Linked DNA regions of Homo sapiens: all the other regions are linked to region 1. The links come from fine-mapping of genetic effects on gene expression. Tissue or cell type: whole blood. Region 1 holds a variant in brackets; each other region holds the start of a gene. Each region is shown on its reference strand, or each on the opposite one.

Region 1 (4,000 bases):
AACAGCTTATACATGATTGTACTTTTAGCACTGATGCAGAGGAGTGGAATAATTCTAGATGTGCTCAGATGAACTTAGGCAAATAGTTTGGAAGTTGTAAAATGTGTTTCCCAAAGCACAAAAAATAGAGAGGCAAAATGTGGATGACTTGCCCTGTGGGTTGGGGATGTGTGAAGAGAAGGAACCTGGCTTAGAAACACTGCTGATTGACTTCATAAAGGAGTCATTGGAAGGGACAAAGAAGTAAAGGAAGACAACATCAGCGGATGTGGCCTGGGTCATCTACATGTGAGGACAGTCACACACTAGACACAAGGCAAAAGGTGTGTCTTTTCTGACCTGGTCATGCAGATTAATGAGTTTTTGAAATACCACTTTACATGTCATATACTTAGGAAAAAATATGATTTCATTCAATGTATTTTGCAGATGAAGAAAGAGGAGGTAGGCCTGCCCCACACATCCCGATTCTGGTAAGGCAGAGAACTGAAGCTTAAACCCAGGACTTCTGCTTCAAAATCTTTTACAACAAGCTGGGCTCACCTTCTGGAGGATTTTTTGGGGGTTTGGGGAAAAAGAGGTGGGTAAATTTATAAGTCAGCTCAGAAAGCAATTCTCACGACTTCACAATTAAGCCTTATTTGTGAACAAAAAAACAGCATTCCTCAGGTTAAGTTAGCACTTTATTCAAAGGTCTAGGCTCTAAAAGGATTTTGGACTATTTCTAAAAGGAAAATAAAACCCAGACTCAAATATACAAAAGCAAGTGCTTGGGTCTCTGAAGGTAATCAAAACAGGGAGATGCAAAATAAATGTGAGTGATGAAAAAAATGCGGATTCTCAACGTTAGGTCTTCCAGGCATGTGTGCTGGTGCATTAGGCCTTCAGCCCATCACTGCTGCACTGTATTACACTCTAGGTACACTCAGTTAAAGACATGAAATGACCATAGCTAGAGACAGTAACATTGTAACCACAGCGTGTCTTCTCCTGGCACAAGCCTCTTGTACAAAGAAGTAGTTCTCCTTGTCCACAAATCTCAAACCAGGAAATCCCTAATTCATTTAATGATCAGGAAAATGCAAGAGATTTGTGTAGTTGTGACTCTTCCAGTTACTCCCCGCTGTACCATTATTTTAGGTTACCTATCACACAGGATGGTGTGCCTGATGGCACTGGCAGTCATTTCTCTATGTCTTGTAGAAAAGTTTACTCCTGGGAAAAACAATTTGGTCACTAGTCCTTGGACCTAAGTAACAGAATCTTGATGAAATGGTACCCATGATCAAATGTTAAAAGGAAGAAAGGGATGGAGAAAAGAAGAGAGGAAGGAAGGAAGGAGGAAAGGGAAAGAAAAAGGAGGAAGGGAGGGAGGGAGGGGAGGGGAAGGGAGACGAGGGGAAGGGAGACGAGGGGAAGGGAGGGAGGGTGGGGAGGGAAGGAGGGAAGAAAGAAAGGAAGGAAGAAAGAAAGGGAGGGAGGGAGGAAAGAAAAAAAGAGGAAAGAAGGAAGGAAAGAAAGGAGAAAGAGAAAGGAGGAAAATTAAAAAGAAAAAGGAAGAAAGGAAGGAAGGAAGAAGAAAGACAGGAAGGAAGGAAAAAGGAGGAAAGAAACAAAAGGGCAAGCAAACAAGAAAGGTCAAAAGACAGTAACGGCCCAATCAAAGCTTCCATGACGAATCTGTGCCTTTTTGGATCATGGTGTACTCAGGAAATGCAGCCGCCACAGGAGCACACGCTGTCTCCTGAACTGCAGGAAGAGCAGCGGTTAGCAGCAGGAGGTGTCCCTTTCACAGGAAGGCTGGGGTCTGGGCTGCACACTGCGGAGCAGATTCACATGCCAGGGTGGCCCCGCTTGGGCTATGAGGACATGGGTGCCAAGGTGGAACTGCTTTCTCAGGCTGCAGGCAGGCAGCTTGCTGCTTCTCTTTCTCTCTTTGAAAAAAAAAAAAAAAAGCCTTTCCTTCACCACCTCTCCTCGGTTGCTT[T/C]ATCAGGTTGCAAAAGCATCTTTTAGGAAGTATCAAGGGGCATCACTCTCCACAATTTTTGCAAAACAATTCCATAGTTGTGATGGTGTCTGTCTTTGCAGCTTAGTTTACTTACAGCCTGTCCTCAAGGGCGCTCTCTGGGAACCTGCCTCATGTCTATAAAGCAGCTACCTCATTTCAAAAATTTAAAGAGGACTTCCCAACTTAAAAAAGTTACCATAGAGTACATGGGAATACAATGAAGGGATGAAGACAAAAATTAAATGTCATGTTTTTCTACATTTAATTCAGCTACTTAGCTTTGAAAAACTGATTTGTTTGACATGTTCACATGTTGTTGTATTCTCGTTACTTTGTACTTAACCAAAATGCCTACAAGTACAAGACCTGTACTTAAAACACAGCTACATAAAATAAACCCAATTGATGTTAAAATTGGACTGGACCTAGATTTTCTTTACATCAAATGTGGGCAAAAAATGAAAGACTTAAAAAGCAGATGTTCACATACATTTGTGACAACACTGAGAAAATGTTTTGAAAAGCAAATTGATTTAAAAACTACTTTTAGAGAGTTGATAAATGACTAGTCTTTGGCTAACATTCAACAAGGGTTAATCTAAAAAGTTTTTTTTTTTTCCACAATATAATGACACACAGTTCTTTGGAGCTCTCAAGATCTGCCTGCCTGTCCAATAGGTAACCCCTAGCTGCATGTGACTCCTGAGCACTTGAAATGTGACCAACCCAAATTGAAATGTGTGGTGAAGATAAAAAAAAAATACATCCGGGGTTTCAAACACATAGTTCAAAAAGAGTAAAATATTTCATTAACAATTGCTTATATTGAGTACATACTTAAATAATATTTAAGCATACTGAATTAAGAAAATATATTCAAATTAATTTCACCTGTGTCATTTTTCTTTTTTAATGTGACTACTAAAAATGGACCAGCAAATATGCAGGTCAAATTATGTTCCCCTTGGACAGTGCTACGCTGGAATTTCTGATTTCTATATTTCACAAATAATGTTCCACAGATGCTAGTTATCATCCATCTGTAAAACCTCTGTCCCTCAAACAATGACTGTTCAACGTTGTTGCGTCTCATAAGGCATAAAGCTGGGCTAGGACTGTCTGCCTATGTCCTGATTAGAAAGACTCCATACAGCCTGGATACGGTGCCTCACATCTGTAATCCCAGCACTTTGGGAGGCTGAGGCAGGTGGATTACCTGAAGTCAGGAGTTCGAGACCAGCCTGGTCAACGTGGTGAAACCCCATCTCTATTAAAAATGCAAAAAATCAGCTGGGCATGGTGGCGGGCGTGTAATCCCAGCTGCTTGGGAGGCTGGGACAGGAGAATCACTTGAACCCAAGAGGTGGAGGCTGCAGTGAGCCAAGATCACACCACTGCACTCCAGCCTGGGCTGCAGAGTGAAACTCTGTCTAAAAAAAAAAAAAAAAAGACTCCATACCCAACATTTAAAATATGTGTGCAGGCACAGGGCAAGCAGATTTTAAGGGTATATTTTTAGGAGACTCCATCAATAATAAAACATGGTTATTGAAATGGGAAAAATTAACTAACACATATAAAACCTTAACAGAAATTTTTACACTTAAAGCTACAAAGTCAAATATAAAAATCAGTGTTGAGACCATATATAAGTAGCAATAATGCTTTAAAACTGCGAGTAAATGCAGCCTTTACAGTGACAAAAACAACTCCATTGTCATCTCAGGATGAAAGTCACTTCACTTAGATCACAGCATTCTCTACAGAACAATAATTTCACTAAGGATTACTTGCACCATAACACTAAGATTAAGTAAGGGTGGCTACACCTGGTAATAGTTAATTGTCACTAAACATTATGGACAGAGTAGAAATGCTTGGGGGGCACTGGCAGATTCTTAATTTTATTGCCACCAAGTTCAACTGGAGAGCACAGAGATATTGCAAAAGCAGTCAAAATTCTGCCAGGTTCCAAGAATCATAATAAAAATG
Region 2 (4,076 bases), not on the chromosome of region 1:
TTTTTTTTTTTTTTTTAAAGATGGAGTTTCGCTCTTGTTGCTCAGGCTGGAGTGCAATGGCACCATCTCAGCTAACCGCAACCTCCGCCTCCTGGGTTCAAGCAATTCTCCTGCCTCAGCCTCCCAAGTAGCTGGGATTACAGGCATGCACCACCACGCCCAGCTAATTTTCTGTTTTTAGTAGAGACGGGGTTTCTCCATGTTGGTCAGGCTGGTCTTGAATTCCTGACCTCAGATGATCCGCCCGCCTTGGCCTCCCAAAGTGCTGGGATTACAGCACTTTGTAATCCCAGCCACTGCACCCGTGAGCCACTGCACCCGGCTCAGAACTGAACTTTATTTATTTATTTTTGAGACGGAGTCGTGCTCTGTCGCCCAGGCTGGAGTGCAGTGGCACGATCTTGGCTCACTGCAAGCTCCGCCTCCCGGGTTCACGCCATTCTCCTGCCTCAGCCTTCTGAGTAGCTGGGACTACAGGCGCCCGCCACCAGGCCTGGCTAATTTTTTGTATTTTTAGTAGAGACGGGGTTTCACCGTGTTAGCCAGGATGGTCTCGATCTCCTGACCTCGTGATCCGCCTGCCTCGGCCTCCCAAAGTGCTGGGATTACAGGTGTGAGTCACCGCGCCCAACTCAGAAGTGAACTTTTAAGACCTGGATAAGGAAGCAATTCATTCACTATCTGAGAGGCAGATGTGTGTGGTCTCTGGAAAGTGTGGTCTGGGAAGCCAGCCCATCTGGCTTCAAATCTTCAGTCTGCCACTTCCAAGTGTGTGACCTGGAGAGGGCACATGACCTCTCTGAACCTCAGTTTCCCCTTCTGTGAAATAGGGATCGTACAGCTCTGATCTCAAAGAGTTGTGATAAGAGGTAAATGTTACTATAGGAAAGCACTTAGAACGGGCTGACAGGCTGGGCGCAGTGGCTCACGCCTGTAATCCTGGCACTTGGGGAGGCCGAGGCAGGAGGATCGCTTGAGCCCAGGAGTTCGAGACTAGCCTGGGCAACATAGTAAGACCTCATCTCTACTAAAAATAAAAAATTAGCTGGGTTTGGTGGCGCATACCTATGGTCCCAGCTACGCAGGACGCTGAGGCAGGAGAACAGCTTCAGCCCAGCAGGTTGAAGCTGCAATGAGTCATTATCGGGCCACTGCACTGTAGCCTGGACAACAGAGCAAGACCTTGTCTCAAAACAAAACAAAACAAAAAAACAAAAACCCCAAACAGGCTGGTATATAGATCTATTCAGTTACAGTGACCTTCTATTACGGCTGTTATTATTTTATGATTGTTATTATTTATATGTATTATTACTAAGTTGCGGATTGCAGGGGTGAGACAGGGCATTCTGGTGGAAGGGGGCTGGGCTGGGGTCCCAAATTCTGATCCTGCCCCTTGCCAGCCCTGTGATCTTGGGTAGGTGACCTGTTCTCCTCTTTGCGCCTCACTTCCCTTCTTCCTAAAAGAAGCCAATAGGGTCATCTCTTGTGGCGGAGTGGCCTTCAAGAGTTCTCATGAGTTGGGTGCCTGAGCTGCATGGGCCTCAAACTGACAGGGTCAAAGCTCTGAGTGGGGGTGACTTGGACTCGTAAGGAGACACTCTCCTCCTTGTCCCTGGCCCGTGGTGAAGCCGCTGTCTCCAACGCACCTGTTAAAAGCAGCTTCCTCCAGGTAGGGGTGTGGCTGGAGCTGACGTCCAGAGGACCCCTCATCTCGTGTTCTGTCCAGGGACTGTGCAGAGAAGGTCTCCTCATCACACATGGGGTCTTCATAGACCTGTACAGTCGCGTCTGCAGCCCCGGCCTCACCCTGCAGGACCCTGCTCACGATGACCATGCCCTACCCTGGCCACTTCCCCACATGACTTACACCAAGTTGGCTGGGAAGTCACCTCCAGCCGCATCCTTCTCTAGCATCGGGTCAGTGGTGGTGGTGGGTGGGGACCAGGCTGGGACAGGGTTCCTGGGAAGGGGGCTCTGAGGTTTTGCTCTCATTCTCTCACCGTACAATCCCCGCCGGGAGATGGAGGGAGAAGCAGAATCGCCCGCTCCTATCACTCACATCAAAGGCAAGGAATGGCCAAAGGTCAACCTGGTAGGAGGTGACGGGGCTTTGGACTCTGAACCACAGCTTTTCTCCTCTGTAAAATGGAGGCGTTAATAATAGTGCCTGCCCCAGAGTCAGACAGGGCCGTGGACACAAGGTGCTTGGAGTAGTGCCTGGTCACGTAGTAGGCGCTCAACGAATGGCAGTCACTATGAAGTCAATGCTAATTATAATTTGGTGTCTAGGATGTCCTGGAGGCATGTTTAGAATCCCGTTATCAGGAGCTTGCTCAGACTATATCCTGAATTTTAGATTCTAGAAGGATAAGCTACACTAGCTACTTTTTCCTCACCCTTCTCACTCCCCAGGTCCATTCTTTCCTCCTCAAATTAATAATTATATTACTCAAACTAATAGCTGGTGTTTATTGAACACCTACTATATGCCGGACACAGCATTAACCTTGTAACAGGGTTGCCTAATTTGAATCCTCATAGCAACCTCGAGGGGTAGATATGAGCATCCCCATTTTCTCGTGGTGCACAGGGGCTAAGTAACTCACCTACCATCACACAACCGTTCACAGGGGCTTTCTGCCAGTTTTTGGAGGCACCAGCTCAGGGGCTTTGCATGAGCCGTTCCCTCTCCTTAGAACCTTACTCATGTAATCTCAAAGCTGACTGTATCTTATTATTTTGGCTTAATTCACACACATCACTCTATCAAAAAGGCCTTTCTTAATGCCTGCTGCAACTCAGTTCCCCACCTCTTTGCTAGCAAGCCACACTGTTTTGTTTTCTTTACATCATTTACCGCTATTTTAGATGATTTATTTATTTGTCCACTTGTATTATCTGTCTCTCCCTCCTTAGTCCCACCTCTCCGACTTGAATATCAGATCCAGGAGGGCAGGGATGTTGTCTGGCTTGTGGCTATGTCCCTAGTGACTAGAACAGTGCCTTGCATATAACAGGTGCTCAATACATGTTTTTGTTTTTGAGACGGGGTCTCACTCTGTCAGCCAGGCTGGAGTGCAGTGGCACGGTCATAGCTCACTGCAGCTTCAACCTTTTGGATTCAAGCAATAATCCTGCCTCAGTCTCCTGAGTAGCTGGGACTACAGTCTCACACTACCATTCCCAGCCAATTAAATTTTTTTTCTTTTTGTAGAAATAGAGTTTCACTATATTACCCAGGCTGGTCTCAAACTTCTGGGCTCAAGTGATCCTCCTGCCTCAGCCTCCCAGAGTGCTGGGATTACAGGCATGAACCACCTAGCCAGCCTACATGTTTTCTTTTTAGTGAATAAATGAATGAAGAGCAAGTGAGTGAAATGGGAGTGTTCAGACTTGAACTCAGATCTTTCTGACTTAGAAGCTCATGCTTTTCCCTCCCAGAGAGGTTCAGGTTCCACCCAGGGGCTAAGGTTCACCCATAAGTCTCTAATAATAGTCATTATCAGGTGACACAGTTATTTCTTTATTAGCATTTGCTAAAGTGCCTTTTTTATAGTTGGTCTGAAGGCCTCTGCTGGAGTGATTAGCTAGGTCAGGAGACCACTGTAGGAAAAAGTAAATATTTACGATGCAGTTAATAACCATTATGTTGTAAGGTTTCTGGGGTTTCTACCCAGCCAGTACTCTCTTGTATCCAGGTAACAGCACCTGGAGTTCTCTTTTGGAAACCAGCCTCCTCATGGCTCCAGGGAGGTGAGGGGCCCAGGACTGGCCAATCAGAGCACTTCATCCCCTGACAACAGTGATTTTTGGAGACCTGGGCGTGGCACTCAGAACAGGCCAAGGAGAAGCAATCTCTTACGGATTTTATTGGAACTCTGGGGAATAAAGCAATTTTTCTTTTTTCTGTTTTTAAATTTTTATTTATTTATTTAAAGACAGAGTCTTGCTGTGTTGCTCAAGCTGGAGTGCAGTGGTGTGATCTCTGCTCGCTGCAACTTCCACCTCTGGGGTTTAAGAGATTCTCATGCCTCAGCCTCCGGATTAGCTGGGATTACAGGCATGTGCCACCA
Region 3 (4,076 bases), not on the chromosome of region 1:
ACCCTCACCCCCATGGCGGCACCGCAGGCAGCCCTGCTTTTGCGTCCCGCGTAGGCAGGCTGTGCACCGGAGTCACGACCCCCTGATTCAGCCTAGGCAGCCACAGCTTGACTGCTCCCGCCGGACAAGCCCTACTGTGCTATCTGCCGCTCTTCCCTTCCTCTTCCCAGGGGGTCCGCGTCAGGGGAGGCGCAGCTGTGTGCATTCCGGGAGCTTCAGACCCCCGTGTCCAGCAGCTCCTTCGTTTCCTGGGTGCTGGGGCGGCCTTCCCAGCGAAGAGCTCAACTCAGCGGGACGTTTGGAGGCTCTCTGCCCCAAGGCGCTGGGGAGTGTGCGGCGGGACAGTCGTGCTTGCCTTTTTCACTTTCAGAGTGTCCACGCCCCACCCGTTTGGTCACTGCAGGTCAGTCCAGTCCAGCCCGGCCCACCCCACCGGTGCGTGTCTGTCGCACGTGGCAGACGCCATACTCTCTGTTCTTGTTTAAAGCCCAGGATCTACTGGGCCCTGGAGGCAAGAGGTGAACGCAGCGGAATCCACGCTGAGCTGCCCGGGAACGGAGCTTCCAACCCCAGAAGGAGGACTCTGTGCTCCTACACCTTAACCCTTTTTAGCCCGAAACTTCTCCAACTTCCTTGGCTTTGTTTAGAGCTCGACAGCGCCGCCCCCTGGCGCTCGTTGTGAGGACAGTAGAGGAGAGAGGCAAGGGTGTTTTTAAACAGTTTGCCTCTCACCATTATGGGGGCGACCCGAGGGGGAGACCCACTCTTCCGCATTCCCGGTAAGTGAACCACCGGAAGAGGTCGAAAGTGACGGATTCCCATGTCCTCCTCCAGCCCCCCCCCCACCCTGCCCATCCACAGGACGGTGGCTCTTCAGTGCCCTTTGCCGAGCAAGTGGCGTTTCTATGCACGTGGGTATCAATTCGGACTCTGGACGAAATGGAAACCTCCTTAGCCGACCCGGGTGGGATCAGCTGGGATCCTGCGCGCTCCCCTGGGGGGTTGCCAGCCACTCTGTTGGGGTGCAAGAAGCACCATCCTTCGGAAGCTGGGCCGAAACTGGCCAGGCTGACTCGCTCCCACGCGCCCGCCCCTACCCGGCGCCGCAGCAATTCACCTGCCACCGCCTCTGAGCCGGGTCCGGACTTCGGCGCCCTGACAGTGTCCCCGCGACTTCCCCACCCGATGAGATGGGGTCTGGCGTTGGCCAGTGCGTGTCCAGGGACTCGCGGGTCCCTGGCCAGCCATGGGGCAGAGGGCGCTGGTGTTAGGCCAGTCTTCCCCACCCTGCCCCGTCACCCCAGCCACACCCACTGTCCTGTGAGGCCAAGCGCGCTCCGCTGGTTTCCTGAGCCAGGCACCTTGGCCGCGGACAGGATCCAGCTGTCTCTCCTTGCGATCCTGTCTTCGGGGAAGTCCACGTCCTAGGCAGGTCCTCCCAAAGTGCCCTTGGTGCCGATCACCCCTCCCAGCGTCTTGCAGGTCCTGTGCACCACCTCCCCCACTCCCCATTCAAAGCCCTCTTCTCTGAAGTCTCCGGTTCCCAGAGCTCTTGCAATCCAGGCTTTCCTTGGAAGTGGCTGTAACATGTATGAAAAGAAAGAAAGGAGGACCAAGAGATGAAAGAGGGCTGCACGCGTGGGGGCCCGAGTGGTGGGCGGGGACAGTCGTCTTGTTACAGGGGTGCTGGCCTTCCCTGGCGCCTGCCCCTGTCGGCCCCGCCCGAGAACCTCCCTGCGCCAGGGCAGGGTTTACTCATCCCGGCGAGGTGATCCCATGCGCGAGGGCGGGCGCAAGGGCGGCCAGAGAACCCAGCAATCCGAGTATGCGGCATCAGCCCTTCCCACCAGGCACTTCCTTCCTTTTCCCGAACGTCCAGGGAGGGAGGGCCGGGCACTTATAAACTCGAGCCCTGGCCGATCCGCATGTCAGAGGCTGCCTCGCAGGGGCTGCGCGCAGCGGCAAGAAGTGTCTGGGCTGGGACGGACAGGAGAGGCTGTCGCCATCGGCGTCCTGTGCCCCTCTGCTCCGGCACGGCCCTGTCGCAGTGCCCGCGCTTTCCCCGGCGCCTGCACGCGGCGCGCCTGGGTAACATGCTTGGGGTCCTGGTCCTTGGCGCGCTGGCCCTGGCCGGCCTGGGGTTCCCCGCACCCGCAGAGCCGCAGCCGGGTGGCAGCCAGTGCGTCGAGCACGACTGCTTCGCGCTCTACCCGGGCCCCGCGACCTTCCTCAATGCCAGTCAGATCTGCGACGGACTGCGGGGCCACCTAATGACAGTGCGCTCCTCGGTGGCTGCCGATGTCATTTCCTTGCTACTGAACGGCGACGGCGGCGTTGGCCGCCGGCGCCTCTGGATCGGCCTGCAGCTGCCACCCGGCTGCGGCGACCCCAAGCGCCTCGGGCCCCTGCGCGGCTTCCAGTGGGTTACGGGAGACAACAACACCAGCTATAGCAGGTGGGCACGGCTCGACCTCAATGGGGCTCCCCTCTGCGGCCCGTTGTGCGTCGCTGTCTCCGCTGCTGAGGCCACTGTGCCCAGCGAGCCGATCTGGGAGGAGCAGCAGTGCGAAGTGAAGGCCGATGGCTTCCTCTGCGAGTTCCACTTCCCAGCCACCTGCAGGCCACTGGCTGTGGAGCCCGGCGCCGCGGCTGCCGCCGTCTCGATCACCTACGGCACCCCGTTCGCGGCCCGCGGAGCGGACTTCCAGGCGCTGCCGGTGGGCAGCTCCGCCGCGGTGGCTCCCCTCGGCTTACAGCTAATGTGCACCGCGCCGCCCGGAGCGGTCCAGGGGCACTGGGCCAGGGAGGCGCCGGGCGCTTGGGACTGCAGCGTGGAGAACGGCGGCTGCGAGCACGCGTGCAATGCGATCCCTGGGGCTCCCCGCTGCCAGTGCCCAGCCGGCGCCGCCCTGCAGGCAGACGGGCGCTCCTGCACCGCATCCGCGACGCAGTCCTGCAACGACCTCTGCGAGCACTTCTGCGTTCCCAACCCCGACCAGCCGGGCTCCTACTCGTGCATGTGCGAGACCGGCTACCGGCTGGCGGCCGACCAACACCGGTGCGAGGACGTGGATGACTGCATACTGGAGCCCAGTCCGTGTCCGCAGCGCTGTGTCAACACACAGGGTGGCTTCGAGTGCCACTGCTACCCTAACTACGACCTGGTGGACGGCGAGTGTGTGGAGCCCGTGGACCCGTGCTTCAGAGCCAACTGCGAGTACCAGTGCCAGCCCCTGAACCAAACTAGCTACCTCTGCGTCTGCGCCGAGGGCTTCGCGCCCATTCCCCACGAGCCGCACAGGTGCCAGATGTTTTGCAACCAGACTGCCTGTCCAGCCGACTGCGACCCCAACACCCAGGCTAGCTGTGAGTGCCCTGAAGGCTACATCCTGGACGACGGTTTCATCTGCACGGACATCGACGAGTGCGAAAACGGCGGCTTCTGCTCCGGGGTGTGCCACAACCTCCCCGGTACCTTCGAGTGCATCTGCGGGCCCGACTCGGCCCTTGCCCGCCACATTGGCACCGACTGTGACTCCGGCAAGGTGGACGGTGGCGACAGCGGCTCTGGCGAGCCCCCGCCCAGCCCGACGCCCGGCTCCACCTTGACTCCTCCGGCCGTGGGGCTCGTGCATTCGGGCTTGCTCATAGGCATCTCCATCGCGAGCCTGTGCCTGGTGGTGGCGCTTTTGGCGCTCCTCTGCCACCTGCGCAAGAAGCAGGGCGCCGCCAGGGCCAAGATGGAGTACAAGTGCGCGGCCCCTTCCAAGGAGGTAGTGCTGCAGCACGTGCGGACCGAGCGGACGCCGCAGAGACTCTGAGCGGCCTCCGTCCAGGAGCCTGGCTCCGTCCAGGAGCCTGTGCCTCCTCACCCCCAGCTTTGCTACCAAAGCACCTTAGCTGGCATTACAGCTGGAGAAGACCCTCCCCGCACCCCCCAAGCTGTTTTCTTCTATTCCATGGCTAACTGGCGAGGGGGTGATTAGAGGGAGGAGAATGAGCCTCGGCCTCTTCCGTGACGTCACTGGACCACTGGGCAATGATGGCAATTTTGTAACGAAGACACAGACTGCGAT
Region 4 (4,066 bases), not on the chromosome of region 1:
AAAGAGAAAAAGGAAAAGAAAAAGTAAAGTGGCAAGGGGTGGAGGTGTCAGTGGCTGTAGCTGGTGGAGAGCCCTGATGCTCACAGTCAAGCAGGACTTGGGAATAATGCAGCCGAGCAGGGCGTGGATCTCGAGGACACAGTGGCCAGGTAGTGGAATAATGCGTGGCACATGCTATACTAACTGTAACAGGTGGACAACGTCAGTTATCATTATTGCCTCCAAAGTGCCCTGGGTACTCCCAGGGTCTTAGAAGGGAGGGTTCCAAGCCTACAGAGAGCCACAAGGGGTCTCACACTGTTCACACACACACAAAACCACAGAGGGTCTCAGCTGTACACAGAGAGGCCTAGGCACCACTCAATACTGTCACAAAGGAATACACAAGGGAATGTTCACACAAAGATGGAATCAAATTAAGTTACAGCCACACTCACAGAGCCCCAGACACACAACAATGTCACAAATGTAACTTACATTGGCACACAGAGCTAAATGAGAGTTTCAAGCCAGGCGCGATGGCTTAAGCCTGTAATCCCAGCACTTTGGGAGGCCGAGGTGGGTGGATCACCTGAGGTCAGGAGTTCGAGATCAGCCTGGCCAACATGGTGAAACCCCATCTCTACTAAAAATACAAAACTTAGCCAGGCGTGGTGGCACACGCCTGTAATCCCAGCTACTCAGGAGGCTGAGGCAGGAGAATTGCTTGAACCCAGCAGGAGGAGGTTGCAGTGGGCCGAGATCGTGCCACTGCACTCTAGCCTGGGCGACAGAGCCAGACTCTATTTCAAAAGAAAAAAAAAAAAAGAAGAGCGTTTCAGAGCTAAATTACAGGCATATGCAGGCACAGAGGGTCATGGTAGAACCCAGAGCCCCAGGCACACTTGTACACACACCACTAAGTCACAATGGGACGCACACTGGTAACTTACAGCAACGCTTGGAGCTACAGATAGAATTAATGGTAAAACACACACAGCCCAAGAAGGATCAGAGCTGCTACACACGGTAACTCCAGACACATGTACAAACACTCCAACGTCACACTCAGACACACAGGGGTAATTTATATTTGCACAGGGAGCTACAGATGGAATGAGACACAACACGCACACAACCAGCTGCTCACAGCCACAGATTTGGAGCCCCAGACACACACAGGTAACTTACAGTGACACACAGAGCCGCGGTCAGAATTAGTGGTTAAGTTACACGCAGGAACTCTATCAGAGGCCCAAAGCTGCTGCAGGCTAGCAGCCCCAGACACACGTACACACACTTGCAAGACAATTCACAGTCGGAAGCACATGCGCCCACCTGGACCGGAAGGGGAGTAAGAAGTCAATTCCGAGCACACAGGACCCCCCGCCCTCCATGACCTCAAGCACGCGGTCCTGGAGAGACGCAGGAAGCCCCCACCCCCGGCAGCCCCGAGACCCGCAACAGCCAAGGACGGTGGGAGGGGGCCCAGGCAGGAGGGGGCTGCCTACTCCCGGCGCGCCCAGGGCTCCGCGGCCTGTGGGCCTGGGCTGGTCCCGATCCTGTCTCCATCCCAGGCCGGAGCCCCAGTTCGGCCTCGCGCTCACCCCTGGCTTACCAGGCAGGGGGTTGCCAGGCCTGAGGGCCCTCCCCGCCAGATGAACCCGCGGGCCCCCAGCCAAACCCCGCAACCCAGTGCGTCGCGGGCCGGCAGTGGCGACCCAGACCCCGGGCCCTGCCCTGCGTCCGCGCCCCACTCCCCAGCTGCACCCCTCGCCCGGGGGCCCCCTGCCCCGCCCCCACCCCGATCGCCCCGGCCAGAGCCATGTGCAGAGGCCCCCGACCTCTGCAGCGGCCGCTCCGCCCCCTCCCCAAGCCCGCGGCGCCCCCTCCCTCCGGTGGCCTCCCCCGCGCGCCCGGTCCCTGAGCTCTAGTCGCCCGGTCCTTACTCGAACATGGATGCGGCGCGGTGGGCGCGCCCCGGGCGCAGGGCAGGGCAGGGCAGGGCAGGGCTGGGCTGCGCGGGGCTGGGCTGCGCTGGGCGTCCCCGCAGGGCACCGGCCTGGCCTTCCGCGGCCGCCGCCCCCACCCGACCCAACCGCCCGCACAAAAGGCCGGAGCCGCCGGAGGCCGCCGCGGCGTCAGCGACACCCCCTTCCTTCCCCCGCCCCGCCGCGTCACGGCGCCGCCCCCAGCCCGGGAGGGAAGGCGGGGAGGGGCCGCAGAGGCCTAGAAGGAGGGAGAAGCCGGGGAGAGAGGGACTGGACAGAGAAGGGAAAGCAGAGGGGCAGAGAGACAGAGAAGGAAACAAAGAGACTTTATTAAAACCAAACATCGTGGAGGCAGCTGCCTGCCCGCAGGTTGGGGAGCCCCCTCCCCTAGTACCTAGAAAAGGGTCCCTAGCAACTACTATGCCCCTGGCCAGAAGCTCCTGGACCTCCCAGGGAGGAACCTGAGAGCCGGGGCGAAGGTGGGGGAGGACTGGAGATGCTGGGAAACCGAGGTGTATGTATGGGGGAGGGGGCCTGAAGCTGGCGGGAAGGGGTGGGGCCGGTTGGCCGCCTCCTCCTTCCCTCTCCCAGTCTCTGAGCCCGGGTTCCTGGTCCCAGGAGGTCCGGTGCCTCCGTTTCTAGGGACTTCCCAGTTTTGGTCAGCCAGGCCAAGTACCAAGTCAGAATCCAGCCTCCCTGGCTCTTATCTGTGCTGAGACCTTGCGCTCATCACCCCAGTGCTGGGAGTCCCACTAACTCGGTGGTAAGGGCTTTTCCCGGGGACAGCGCAGGAACGGGCAAAATCAGTCCTTTTACGGAAGGAGAAGCCCGGCCTCTAAGATGGGAAGTGACTTGTTGGGGTCACCTGGTAGGTAGGCGGCAGAGTTGGATTCGATCCTGCTCTGACGCCATAACCTGCGTCCCCCCTCCCCCGCCCCGTCTGCAAGAGGTCAGAGTCAGGTGGTGTCCTGGACTCCTGGCCCAACCACACAGAAATGCGAGTCCCACCTCACAGCTCCGGGGCTGTGGCTCCCCAGCGCTCTCCAGGGTACGCTGTCCCCGCCTCTTTTGAAAAAACTCCCTTCCCAACCCTCTCCATCAACCCTTCCCCTCCTCCTGCAAAAGAAGCCCACCTGACTTCTCCATTTTGATGAATGGCAGGCCCAGAACTTCAGAGTCTTTTCTGACCCTCTCTTTTCCTTCACACCACATCCAATCCGTCACAAACTGTGGGCTCCACGTATAAAATCAATCGCTCCATTCTAAACTCTTCTTCCTCCGCTGCCCACGCCCTGGCCCAGCCTCCATCCTCTCCTGCCTGATCTCCCTGCTCCCATCCCTGCCCCTACTGTCTGTTCTCACCTGCAGCCAGAGAGAGCCTGGGACCACCTGAGTCAGTTAACTACCCTCCTGGCTCAGAGCCCTGCCCCAGCTGTACCTCACTCCAGGTAAAAGCAAAGTCCTCACCTTGGCACCCAAGGCCCCTGTCAGCTCTCTGACTTCAGCTCCTCATCTCCCCCTGGCTCACACCCCCCATCCAGCCTACCCGCTGTTCTTCTAACTCACCAGGCACCTTCCTGCCTCCTACCCCAAGACCTTTGCACTGGTTATTCCCTCTGCATGGACAGCACCCCCCCTATCGCCGTGCCCTACCTCTCATGCTAACCCCCACCTCTAAAACCCCCATCCACCATCTGACATTTGCTGCCTCCCACCGGCCAATGGAAGAGAGGCCCTCCTCCCACCACCTTCCTCTGTCCAACTGATCTCTTTAGATTTCTCTTTGGTCTGTTTCTTCTAGTGTAATGCTTTTAGTTTTTTAATTAAATAATATTTATTTCAGGTCAGGCGCGTTGGGTCACGCCTGTAATCCCAGCACTTTGGGAGGCCAAGGAGGGTGGATCACCTATCAGGAGTTCGAGACCAGCCTGGCCAACAGAGTGAAACCCCATCTCTATCAAAAATACAAAAAAATTAGCCAGGTGTAGTGGCTTGCACCTGTAATCCCAGCTACCCAGGAAGCTGAGGCAGGAGAATTGCTTGAACCCGGGAGGTGGAAGTTGCAGTGAGCCAGGATCGCACCACTGCGCTCCAGC
Region 5 (4,076 bases), not on the chromosome of region 1:
GCCTGTGTCTAGTGATTTCAATTCTGCTCTTGGCTGCAATTCCAACTGTCAAGAAAGTTTTGCAGTCAGCCATTTGATAGTGGAAGGGTTAGCCCATGAAACTGAATTTCCTGTGTATCTGGAAAGAGAGGCAGCCCTAGAGATCTGACATGCTCTGTGAAAATTAGGGGTTCATTTTTGCTATTGCTGGTTAGTCTCTGCTGAACCTAATATATTTCAACATTTGAAGACTTTTTTTAAAAAGAAAATTTTTTTCTTTCTATTTTTTATTATGAACTTAAGTAACTTCATGGCAAAAAAATCTAATCAACATTAAACTATTTACTTCCCTCCAAAGTAATTTCCTCTCTGTCAATGCACAGACGTGCATTTTTACTTAGTTATAATTAGTGTGAACATACTCGTTTTTGTTTAAGAAAGGTTTTCTTTACCTTGGCATTCAGATTCGTTTTCATAGGCGAAGAAAGCACTGGGAAGGAGAAGGAACCTTTGCTGGCAAGTTGGGAGGATTATATGGGGTCATACTATCCCAGGGTTAAGGAAACCTTAAAGGACCCAACATCCCTCTCCATATCTCTTCTGATGATCCTTTTGTGCTCACAGACTAACCAGTGTGGCCTTTTCACTCAAAAGCCTCTCCAGATCTGCACAGCACCAAGGGTGCAGTCTGGCTCCCAAAGGAGTAATGCAATTCCATCCTCAGGTCTGCCAGGGCCCACCTGTCTGTCGTGGGCATGCACCATTGCCCTGGCTTTACTGGGCTGTTGGGTTGTCTAGTGGTTTTCCTTGCAGAAAGCAAGCAGGAACAATGCTGCTCCGGACTGGTTTTCCATACCACTCCTCTCAAATATCTTCTATTTTCTTAAGTGTGATCACACACCCATGGTTTCCAATCTATCAAAGCATAACATTGCTAGTCGCTTTTTTCTAAGTTAAGGAAGTAGCCATGTTGGGTTTAATTAAAAACAGCAACTATTTGTACAGCTGTCCCTAAGTTCATGGCTCATAAAAGGATTAACTTCAACCTTGCTGCCTAAGTCTTTTGGGAGTGTCACAAAAAAACATTTAGGCTTTTCTGGGCAGTGCCAGGCCTGGGCCTTGAGGCTTGCTGATGCTAGTTCAGCCACCAGGCTCTCGGTGCTCAAGTGGCACCCAGCAAAGCAGAGAAGAGCAGAACTTCCAGATACACAACTCCTCCTTCTTTTGTTTGGGGGATGCAAGGCCTTGAAGGCTGCTTCAACAAGTTTCTGAAAATTCCCCTCGGGTTGGGAAAGGCACAGTCTTCCTTTTGCAAGTTTTTCTAGAGCCCTTCGTACTTTTGCCCTAGAGTGGGTCTTTTGCACCCCCACCTCCCAGACCTCAGTGGTCATTGGCAGGCATCCTTCGAAGGAGGTGGGGGCGGGGTATCCCCGCCGATGGATGCGCCCGCACAAAGCAGCACGTTTTCTCATCAAAGCCCTGGAGAGAGGGAAGAAGCAACGCTCAGCATTTCGCTGATTTTCAAGTGCACACCGAGCAGCGCTTCAGGCAGCTTTGGGTCAGAACACGCCTGATTCGGACTTCAGGCGAAGGCAGAGGCCAGCACGGGTCACCGATTCAGAGCCGGGGGCGGGGCCGACCACACACGCTGTGAGACCCAGAGGCCGAGGAGCCGCGGGTTAGAAAATGTGACCTTGGCGACCCCAACGCCCCCGCCTCCCTCGCTGCTGCTCCACCTGCACGCGGAGCGCGCCGGGCCGCCAGCGGAGGCGATGGCCAGCCCTGCGCCCTTAGTGGCCTCCATCAGCCACCAAATGGTGGCTCTGCAGACCTTGCAGCTGCTGCAGCAGGAGTGGGGCTGGGGGGACGGTCCAGTCGCCCCCGGGAACCCGCGGGACCCAGACCACGTGTCCACCGCTCCAGCCCGTCGCTCAGGCCCGCCGCGGGCCCGGCCGGGGCCCGGGCGCGAGGAGCGGGGCGGGGGCGTGGGGACCAGGAGTCGGCGGACCGCGGCGCGGGCGAACTCCCCAGAGGAGGAGGTAGTGCGAGGCGCTGAGGGGGGCGCCGAGTTGCTGCCCTTCCCCCGGGACCGCGGGCCCTGCACCCTGGCCCAGATGGCGATGCGCAGCGCGCTGGCCCGCGTGGTGGACTCGACTTCGGAGCTGGTCAGCGTGGAGCAGACGCTGCTGGGGCCCCTCCAGCAGGAGCGGTCCTTTCCCATTCACCTGAAGGTGAGTCTGGCCCCCGCCATCCCCTCTGGCGTGCAGGGTAACCTCCCATCCTCCAAGGGTGGGGCTGCTGGGATGGCGATGGGTGGATCGCAGGATCCCAAACACTGCTGCCCACTGTGATTCAGCCCCAGTGGGAGAAGGAAGGGGGCGGGGGACACTCTGGGGACTCAGCAGGAGGGGCAGGGAGCCCCAGACCCACCTGAGGCCCGCCTGGCTGGCACAACCGAGATGTGGGGACTGCCTTGCCAAAACCTCCCCCTGGAACTCCTTCCTCTCTCACATAAATCAGCTTCCTGCGCTAGAAAGGCCCTTTCCACACGTGCAGCTTGTAGGGATAGAGGACAGCTCCCCCCACCCACTTTCCAAATTAATAACGCTTCCTCCAGAGCCTTAAATACACTTACTAAGTCCCTTCTGCCTTTTGTATGATGAAATCATCTACATTTATTTAAAGTTCCTTCACATTCATGAATCACTATTATTTTTTGCATAAATCCAATTCCCCACAGAGCTAAGGGGTCTTACAGAGTCAACCTACATTCTCATAAAGTGGGGTGAGAGCTGGGTGGGTCCCGGGTGTTAAAGCGTGAATACTAAATGCTAAACTCTTGCTAAGTCACCCAGCTCATATAGGTAGGGCACATTTCCTCTTAAGGTACCAAACTGTGTTAGCCAATTTAGCCCGGGAAGGGAGCAGCTGTCTCCCAGGCTGAGTGAGATTGCGGAAATCTGGGGGTCTGGGTTTCAGTCCTGGACTTGCCATTAACTAACCTAATTGGTTTAAGGTCACGAATCTCTCTGAGACATTCTGGCTTTCAGATTTTGACCAGGAGCATTGCTGTATTTTATTTCCCTGGGGCATCTAGCAGAAGGAGTTGGGGAGGGGTGATGAGGAGAGCTTAGAATATGTCTCAAGAGTTGCTATTCTGTACAAGCCAAGGTTTGGAAAAAGTTGCTATACATTAAGTTGCACTATACACTGTAAAAGATTTATTTAAAATCAAACATAATAAAGCCTATTATATACCCAAATAGGTATTGTTTCTCTACGTAGGGGTTTCTCAATCTCTGTACTATTCACATTTTGACCTGGCTAATTCTTTGTTGTCGGGGGTTGTCCTGTGTATTAGAGGATGTTTAGCAGCATCTCTCGCCTCTACCTGTTAGATGCCAGCAGCATATTCCTCGCCGCAAGTTGATACAGCCAAAAATGTCTCCAGACACTGCCAAAGGTGGCGGGGGCGGTGGGGTGGGAGGCAAGATGAGAAGCACTCCTACACTCACTTTAGAAAGTTAGAAAATGAAGCTGCATTTCACCAAATGCTCTCCAATGTAAGATGTACTTTTTTTTGGTATCACCAAAATTTTTTTTAATCCTGTCATTGAACTATGATACACCATTGATTATAAGTTACATGCTAATTTAAGGGATTTTTTTTTTTTTTTTTTTGAGACAAGGTCTGCCTGTGTTGCCAAGGCTGCAGTGTGGTAGCCATTCACAGGTGCGATCATAACACTACAGCCTCGAGCCCTGGGCTCAAGTGATCCTCCTGCCTCAGCCTCCTCAGTAGCTGCAACTACAAACCTGTACCACCACATCTGGCTGATTTCAGGGATTTTTAAAAAATGTGAATAAAAGTGCATTTTAAAATAGATGAAATATGAAGTGACTTGTGATGTCAGTAGCACATACAGGGCATAGGTAAGGCTGGCAAAAAGAGAGACTGACAATCAGTTTTACCTAAGGTGACCCTGGAAGGCTTCTCAGAGGAGGCAGCCTTTAAAAAAAAAATACATGTTATTTTCCAGACATTAAAGGGAAAAATATTTCAGGAGAATACTTTGGTTAAGGCCCAGCAGCACTGA
Region 6 (4,064 bases), not on the chromosome of region 1:
GGTCTGGGTTTGGCCACCCGTTCCCTGACTTGCTGGCTGTGTGGCCTTATGCAGGTCACTTGCCCTCTCTGAGCCTCAGCTTTCTCGCCTGTAAAGTGAGGGGCACGTGAGCTCCCGCCTTGCAGGGCTGTGTGTGTTGCGGGTGGTCTTGGAAGCCGCACTCAGTGTGGACAGGCAGCAGTGCTCCCATGCAGGTGCCACGTCAATATCATCACGTGGTTCCTGTTTAGGTCCTGCTCATTCCTCCAAGGGCCGAGGCAGCTCCGGGGGAATGGGGAGGGCGTGGCCTCTGCCCTGGTCCTAGCCGGGTCTGCGGCTGCTGGTGTCCACCTGTGGTTCTCAAAGGGTGGTCCTCCTGGCCAGCAGCATTGGCCTTGCCCAGGAACTTGTCAGAAATTCAGATTCTCTGGCCTGGCCAGTCCTGGGAATCAGAACCCCTGGGATGCAACCAGCCACCTGTGCTTTCACGAGGCCCCAGGGGCCTCTCGCAGGCACTGGTGTGAACCAGGAGATCCTGGAGGGTGGCGGCCCATCTTGTGCCCCCTACCCTCACTCCCATCACAGGGTCTGGTCCTCCCATTTCTCCAGTCACTCTGCACTAAACGCTGGACAATGGCCCCTAAGTACAGGCCCTCGTCTGCTAGTTAACAACTGGGGGGCCCAGGTTCTCCAAATGTGGTCCCCAGAGTACCCACACCAGACCACGAGGGAGCCTGACAAAATGCAAGCCCCTGAGTGCCCCCTAGACCGGCTGGGCATGGCTCCCCAAGAATTTGCTCTGGGGACACCCACAAGTCCCAGAACAGGGGGAGGAAAATGAAGGGCACAGGAAAAGCCGGGCCCTGGGGAGGAGATGGAGGAAAAGGGAAGTCAGACAAGATTCCCCAGTGCCAGTGACGGGCACCACTGCCTCCCCAGAGCCACCACAAGCCAGCCGCCCCTTGGCAGCAGGGGTCTGGGAGCCCTTGGCAGTTCAACCCTGTACGGACACCGTTTGAGGGGCTAGAAATAAGCCAGGATGAAATGTTATGAAATAATAATAATAGTCCCTTCTCTGGCCCACTGCAGAACCCTAGAAAGTAAGGGACTGGGGCCAACGGCAGCTGCAGTCAAGGTGCCTGCAGCTATGTGACCCCAGGGCCTAGCCCGCCCCTGCCTCCCGCCCTTCACTTAATTCCAAATACCTTTTCTCTTGTCAGCCGCAAGTCAGTGGGCTTCAAAGTCAGGCGGTGGCTCCCGTGACCCTTTGTGGGGAGGGCAGGGGTGGGCCCAGCTTCTGTGTGTTCTGCTCAGTGGGCCAGGAGGCCCCAGGCCTGCAACGAGAGGGAGGGAGGGAGCTCGGCCTGCCGGTCATTGCTCCGCACCTAGGCCCTTGCAGCTTGGAACGGACCAGCAGCCGGGAACAGCTGGTCCGATCCCACCGCCCTGCTAGGGAGGCTGCCCAAGGTACCCGGAGAGCCTTGGACTGGGGAGCTCAGGGCTGGATGAGCCAGAGCTCCAGGAGAGGAAGGCTGCGCTCACCTGAACTAAAAGTCGTGTTACAATCATACCTGCAGGTGTCAACCTCACTTTCGTTGCAGAGAGGAGGGTCTGGAATCACATGCTCCTCCAGGCAGCATTTTACAGAAAGCTGCCCTGACAGCCACGACGTACTCCCCCACTTCTACCTCTATCTCGGATTCTGTTGCAGAATGTGGCGAGGTATCACAGGGCTGCCAGCCACGGACAGGTTTGAGGGGACCGGAGTAGGGGGTTGCAGGGACGAGCTGGCAGGATCCAAATCCCTCCCGTCAGATGTGTCTCCACCCACAGCTTCCTTTTCCATTGGAGCAAACATAACAAAACAAGTGTCAACTACACTTCCTGATTCCTGAGTTACGAAAAGCCAGTGCCACCCACAGGTCCGTCCACCCCCTCCTCTTGACCCGGCCCTTCCAGTGGCACCTTATTCTGTTATTTGCTCTCTATTTTTCTTTAAAAGCATTCACTGCTATTACTTAGGTAAATGCATCCATAAGGGAACTTTATGTGACTACTGTTAGGTGGAAAAAAAACTAAGATCATGGGCCATAAATAGAAGGTAAAAGTAAAAATAAATTACAATTAAAATAAGCAATGTTAGGAAATTCTAGCTGGCTATTGTTGCCTGCCGATGGCATTTTGATAGAAAAGCGTTGGGGAGTTGCAAGCTTCCCCTCCAGGGGACCAGAGGGCTGAGACAGAGAAGGGAATCACCTTTGTGTGGTATGAGGCTGTGTGATCCCTGACGTCACTGTCTCCTAGGTCACCGAGGGTGCCCACCCCACACTGGGGAAACACTGACCTGAGGGGCACCCCTAAGCCAGTGAACCAGGGGACAGGGCTCCTTGCGAGGCAAGGACCAGATGGCATTTAACGCTGATAGGCACTATCATGACCTCCTGGGCATGAAACAGGTACCTCCCTGGTCCTTTTTCCAGAAGAGGTTGCAGAAGCCCTCTGGACAGGCCTGGCTCATGTCCTCCTGCTGGAGCGGGCTGACATAGCCCTCAGCCCTCCACTCCCAGCGTGGCCCGTCCGCTCTCCACAGATGTGCCACGCTTTCTCTAGGGTCCCCGCCCTGGGATTCCCTCCCGACCTGGCACATCTCAGTCAACCCCACCTGCCTTCCAGGTCCCCTCCGCCAGCCCTCGGCGGCCTCTCTGGGGCAGGACAGCATCCTCCTGAGGACCATGATGTCTGTAGTACTGTTCTGCCATCCGGAACTTCTCGTAAGTGGGACCCCACTGACCACCCTCTCGATTTCTAAGTGAAGCCAGAGAGTTGGATCACAATTATCCCCTGTGCCAATAATTTCCTTTATGAGAAATGCAGTTGTAAGTCTTAGAAAGGGACATGTGAATTAAAACAGGCAGTCACGCAGAACAAGGGGGAGGGAACGCATGAGGGTGCCAGGAGGTCCCCAAATTGTCCTCCAGGTGGAGACCAGCTGGGATGGCGGTGACGTCTCACCTGCACCAGGACTGGCAGCTCTGTCACATCCCCACAACACAGGGCCCTGGCAGGCCTCACTCTGCACTGGCTGGCTGTATCTGGGGCACAGACACACGGGCTGGTGGCGTATGTCACAGGTGGCAAATGTGTCACTTGGCCTCAAGACTCCCTGCATGCAGTGGAGACAGTGAGGCCTCTGTCCACACAGGCCCCAGCTGGGCCATGACCCGCTCTTGAGGCCCATCCCTTACCCTGACCTCACAGCTTCCCTGGTTGCCTTCCAGGGTCAGCAGAGCAGCCTGGATGCACTCAGAAGCCCCGGGGGACTCAGGCCACTCTCCCTGAGACCCAAGAGCATCCCCCTGCAGCTTGTGATGAGCCCTGGGTAGGGAAAAGGTGACACAAGGGGGCTCATAGCCACCACCAGGTCCAGCTGGGCCAGGGCACTCATCCCAGTCTATGGGGAGAGTCCACCTTGGCTCCAGCTGGCAGGATGAATTAGGAAATGAGAGCCAGCCCTTTGCAGCCTAGAGCAGTGGCTCAGGCAGGGCCTGGCCAGGGGCTGTGGGCAGGAGTGTCTGAGGCTGGAGGAGCAGCCCCCAGGCATCCCATCGCACTCCCTCAGGGCATCCGAGGAATCCCACCTTGACTCCTCTCGGTCTTAGCTCCAAAGCCACGTCCAAGCAGGTGAAACAGGAAGCCCCCTCCCCAAGGGGCTTTCTAGGGCAGAATGCCTGAAAGATCAGGGCAATCACCACAAACACAGATGGAAATCGGAAAGCCGGCTCCTAAAACATCTCAGGGCTCCACGCTAACACGGAGACAGGAGAGGACCACGGGTGGGGCAGGGGTTTTAATGCTGCCCAGATCTGGGTGCAAGTCTCAGTGCCACCCCGTGCCAGCCATGTGGCTTTCAGCAAGTGACTTCCCTTCTGTGAGCCTGTTTCTGCATCTGCCAAATAGGCCTGATGATAGCACTGACCAAGCACAGGCTTTCTGTGAATTTTCATACATTTGTATGGAGGGTGCACAATACCTGGGATGTATAGATGAAATTTGTATAGGTGGTCGCAGTTATTACTATTATTATT
Region 7 (4,076 bases), not on the chromosome of region 1:
CATGCCCAGGCTTTCATTAGCCAGCAAGTCCTGACTGGTTGTATGTGATATGATCACACCTCACCCTAAAACTTTTCTAGACCATCCCCATCCTATTCTCTCTGAGTCCATTTATCCTTCCCCAGAGTGCTGCAGAGAAGACACAGCTATGATGAGTTATTCATGGAGTCCACGTTCTCCCCACTAGCCTTCTTGAGGCAGGGCCCAATTGTATCTTCTTTGACCTTTCCAAAACTGAAGGTTGGGACTGACTCCACGGTGCTGGCCTGTCTATGGCCCACCCCAAACCTCAATGTTGAAAATCGATCCCATTCCTGACCTGGAAAATGCCTTCTGAGTTGGGGATTATGAACAGGGATGGATAAAAAGGAGGGGACTTGGACGAAGTGGCTTCACATCCATTTAGACTGACTCCAAGGAGAGGCTGATTAATCGGATTTAGGCTGAGGACCGAAAAGGGGTGAGTAACATGGAAGGAACCCTGTGCTTCCAATGGGCTTCCTGAGAAGTGGACAGAATTTTGGAAACGGAATCCTAGACTCATAAGAACTTAATTAAAGTGAAGACCCAGAGGATTTTAGAAACAAAAGCTCAGAGCTTGCAAAAATGTGAGTTATGCATGTTGGGAAGTTGGAGACAGAAATCGCTCGCTTTGAGTCTATCCCTACACCTGGCTTCTGCCTCCTTCCCCACCCACTCCCACTCCCTGGGTAGAGGAGAGGTCTACAGAGCCCACCCCAGTACATACTGTCAAAGGAGATAAGCATGCTGGGTCATCCCACTCCTGGCCTCAGTATCCCCACTCCAGGTGTGGGCCACACACCTGCTGGAAATAGACTGAGGCTCTAGAGAATTCTACCTCTTCTTCTGAATTAGCAGTCCCCAGCTTTCTCCAACTACCAGGTTTCCTCAGGCTAATGAGGACAGTGGGTCCTGGGTAGTGAGGCTGCCCCAGGGGAGGAAATTTCAGAGAACAGCTTGTGGATTTTTCAGCTTCTCCAAGCATCCCCTCTGAGGCCCTCAGCTTCATTGTGCCCCATGCACTCCCACCCCCAAACTCTCCCCTGCAGATGGAGAAACGGGGGTCCAGGAGCAGGTAAGGACTCAGGGTCCTGAGTGTTCTGCACTGTCACTCCAGAGCTCTTTCTAGCACAGATCTCTGCCTCTTCTACCAATGCCCTGAATCCAAGTGGCCATTTCTACCTGCCTGTATCATTCTTGGGGTAGAAGAGCCCCCCACAGCAGTTCTTCAGGACCAGGACCACCCAGCTGCCTCTCTCCTTTCTCCTTGTCTCTCTCCCTGGGAACTTGCACAGCCCACCCAGACGCTGGGCATTTTTTTCTGTGACGCCCTCCCTCTTAGGCCCTACTGAAGGGGAGCAGCTCAGGCACGGAGGTGACATAGATGTAGCAAGGCGACCCTCGAGGTGGCAGTGGGGAGAAAGTGCGAGCTCGGGGAGAGAGACCTTCCTCCCTTAGTCATTCTGCCCGCCTGAAGCACCAGGTCTCGGCTCTCCAACAGATGGAACTACGAGACGACGACGGTCGGGGGCGGGGTCCCGGCGGCGGAGGGGGCGGCAAAAGGGGTTCAGGAGGTCTCTCGCACCTGGGGATTGCCCATCTGGCGGGGAGCCTGGGAAAAGGGGTGCATTGCACTGAGCGCTGGACACCGAGGGGCTAGGTTTTTTCTCCCGGCCCCCGGCCCGGAGGCTCACTCACCTTCGACTTCTCTTGTCCCCGGCTCTGCGAGACGAAGCCGGCCAGGAGCAGGGAAAGCAGGCAGGACGCCTGCAGCAGCCGGGCCATGGCGGGGTGGGGGCACACTCAGGGTCGCCTGAGCCGCTGCCTGATCCCTGGCCACCGTCCGTCTGAGGTGTCCGGCGCTCCCAGCCACCTTTCAAGCCCTCGGGTGTGACCAATCCGCGGCCAAGCCGAGACCCTTGCAGCCAATCGCTAGGCGGCTGGGATTTCAGGGGCGGGCGCGACTTGCCCTCAGCTCCCCACCTCCCCGTCCCGGGGCGACAGTGACATAAGCAAATCTGGGCAGAGAGGTGGAAGTCAGGTCCCTGTGGACGTGGGAGGCGGTCCCTTCCTCTTTTGGCTCCAAAGTGCGAAAGGAGGCAGACACAGCGGTCTCCATTACAGCCAGGGCAAGGGGGCTAATAGCTCCCTAGAACTGATGGAAGTCTCCATTCTGGGAAGCATTTCTTATTCCTATCGAGGTTTTAAAAACACCTGGCGATGGTCCTCTGGAAATTGAGGGTTTAAAATTTCAGCAAGAGCTGAAGTTAAACTTCCAGAAACATTTACTATATATAGGTTTAGTGCTTAAGAAACAAAGAGTGGGTGTCCTGGGATTTTGAAAACCCCATTCTGGGTAGGGCATTAGGACTGTAGGGACAGAGAAGGTGGGGTGCCTTTCCTCCCCATCATAAGGATCACAGCTGACATGCCTGTAGAAAAAGGTTAGCAAGAGAAAAGCATAACGATTTATTTAATTAAAGTTTTCTGTGACATGAGAGTCTTCAGAAATGAAGACCCAAAGACTCAAGGAAAACTCTATTTTTAGGCTTAGATTCTATGAAGACCATGGAAATGCGCAGAAATGTGAGTGGGGAAAAAGGGAATGGTCTAATAGTAATAAACTGAGTGGGAAACCCAGCAAGGCTTGTCTGTTCGTATTCTTCTTGGCCTATCTGTGGCCAAACCACCTGGCTTAGAAGCAGAAAATAAATTTGCTCCCTGTGTAGTCTTTAACATGTTGCAGTTACTCTCTGGGCCTCAGTTTCCTCAGCTATGTAATGATGGGATTGATTAGTGATCTCCAGTGCCCTTCTGGCTCTGGCTAGATGACTTGTTTCTAAAGTAAGTGACAGACGGAGACCAGGAGTCCTTTGAGAATAGGGCCCATAATCACCACCTGGCACAGGGCCTAGCACACAAGAGATGTAAAGTATTTGCTGACTTAATCATTCATTACATTAAAAAAACAAAATCTCCATGGAACACTTAGGATCAGACCAGGCAGTTCTAGGGCTGGGCTGTCTAGGTATGATCCCGTTCACAGATGGGGAATGTGATGGAATCAGTCTCAAATCTCTCTGACCACCAGAGTCAACTGGGAAGCCTTTAATACAGATTCCTGGACCCCACTTTGGAATCACTGCATTAGAATCTCTAGGGGCAGAAGCTGAAAATCTGTCTTCAGACATGTTCTAAGGTTATTGTGAGGCAGTTGGCCTGGCTGTAGCCTTGGTAGTGTGAGTCCTAGGATTAAGTGCCTTCTGGAACTTTCTTCTGACCAAGAAATGCCTTGAGAAACCATACCTTTACTATGATTAAAGGTATTAACATCCCCCTGGGAATTTGGAAGATGTCTCTCAAGTTTTGCATTCTCTACGAAGTCTTCCCACCTCAAACCACAGCCTGTTGAAGTGGAAGGAACCACAGAGGCCAGGAAGTCTTTAGCTGAGTTAAAGCCTGGGAGCATATGAACAATGGCTGACACACAGTAAGTGCTCAATACGTTTTATTCAACCACCTCATTTCCCTGAAGCCTAGAGATGAGGAGCAATTTATCCAAGTTCCCATAACCAACTGATGGCAGGGAGGGAACCAGAATCCAGGTCTCTAGACTCAGTCTCAGGCCCTCTCCATGTTGTTCTGTTGTCTTTTAAGGTTCGTATTTACCCTAAAATATAAACATCTGTGTGCACATCAGTTTGTCAGAAATCCATTGTTCATTAGTATCAGTAGGCATCTAGTGACCCTCAAAATAGGCACCTAGCAACATGTTAACACCATGAGAGATGCTAAAGAGTTGTCTAAAAGCCAAAGTCCCTGCTCTCAAAGGTGTTTCCAGCAGATACCAGCAGGGTGAGGGAAGGGAAGGCACCTAGGGTCACACAAGTGCAGGCTGGCACCTGGCAGCGGGCATCTCTCTACATTTTGCACCCTCTATGTCTCACTTGTCTCACCTTAATCCCAGCCCTGGTGGTCTATTTCTTTAGGGGAGACAAGAAGGAGCCAGAGACCTGAGATGCTACCCCTGGATTGCTACGGAAAGTAATAAAATT

The links. PIP is the estimated chance that this variant, and not a neighbour inherited with it, causes the effect.
Region 2: IGSF23 starts here. The variant in region 1 is fine-mapped to the expression of IGSF23 in whole blood (TOPMed, PIP above 0.99).
Region 3: it holds the start of THBD, and the variant in region 1 is fine-mapped to the expression of THBD in whole blood (TOPMed, PIP above 0.99).
Region 4: it holds the start of GRAMD1A, and the variant in region 1 is fine-mapped to the expression of GRAMD1A in whole blood (TOPMed, PIP above 0.99).
Region 5: it holds the start of DLEU7, and the variant in region 1 is fine-mapped to the expression of DLEU7 in whole blood (TOPMed, PIP above 0.99).
Region 6: LINC02975 starts here. The variant in region 1 is fine-mapped to the expression of LINC02975 in whole blood (TOPMed, PIP above 0.99).
Region 7: GPX3 starts here. The variant in region 1 is fine-mapped to the expression of GPX3 in whole blood (TOPMed, PIP above 0.99).

Annotation. Positions count from the first base shown.
Region 1 is chr7:50,340,603-50,344,602 of GRCh38, reverse strand. The region is part of intron 3 of IKZF1 (IKAROS family zinc finger 1); the gene reads right to left. Among named protein-coding and RNA genes, the nearest start is that of IKZF1, 38 kb to the right of the region's middle. The variant T/C (reference allele first, on the strand shown) is at 1,988.
Region 2 is chr19:44,611,565-44,615,640 of GRCh38, reverse strand. IGSF23 (immunoglobulin superfamily member 23) reads right to left here and starts at 2,078. Exons shown (of 5, transcript NM_001205280.2): 1 at 1,871-2,078. The coding sequence starts at 1,995. RefSeq lists an enhancer at 165-666.
Region 3 is chr20:23,047,522-23,051,597 of GRCh38, reverse strand. It overlaps THBD (thrombomodulin), which reads left to right and starts at 1,926. Exons shown (of 1, transcript NM_000361.3): 1 at 1,926-4,076. The coding sequence starts at 2,094. The coding sequence ends at 3,821.
Region 4 is chr19:34,998,349-35,002,414 of GRCh38, reverse strand. It overlaps GRAMD1A (GRAM domain containing 1A), which reads right to left and starts at 2,092. Exons shown (of 20, transcript NM_020895.5): 1 at 1,929-2,092. The coding sequence starts at 1,936. RefSeq lists silencers at 1,478-1,607, 1,878-2,257 and an enhancer at 4,032-4,066.
Region 5 is chr13:50,841,322-50,845,397 of GRCh38, reverse strand. It overlaps DLEU7 (deleted in lymphocytic leukemia 7), which reads left to right and starts at 1,706. Exons shown (of 2, transcript NM_001306135.2): 1 at 1,706-2,210. The coding sequence starts at 1,752. The region is part of intron 4 of DLEU7-AS1 (DLEU7 antisense RNA 1); the gene reads right to left. RefSeq lists an enhancer at 1,850-2,776.
Region 6 is chr9:129,280,179-129,284,242 of GRCh38, reverse strand. LINC02975 (long intergenic non-protein coding RNA 2975) reads right to left here and starts at 1,827. Exons shown (of 3, transcript NR_121587.1): 1 at 1,551-1,827; 2 at 1,185-1,313.
Region 7 is chr5:151,018,385-151,022,460 of GRCh38, reverse strand. It overlaps GPX3 (glutathione peroxidase 3), which reads right to left and starts at 1,870. Exons shown (of 5, transcript NM_002084.5): 1 at 1,720-1,870. The coding sequence starts at 1,806. RefSeq lists an enhancer at 1-425.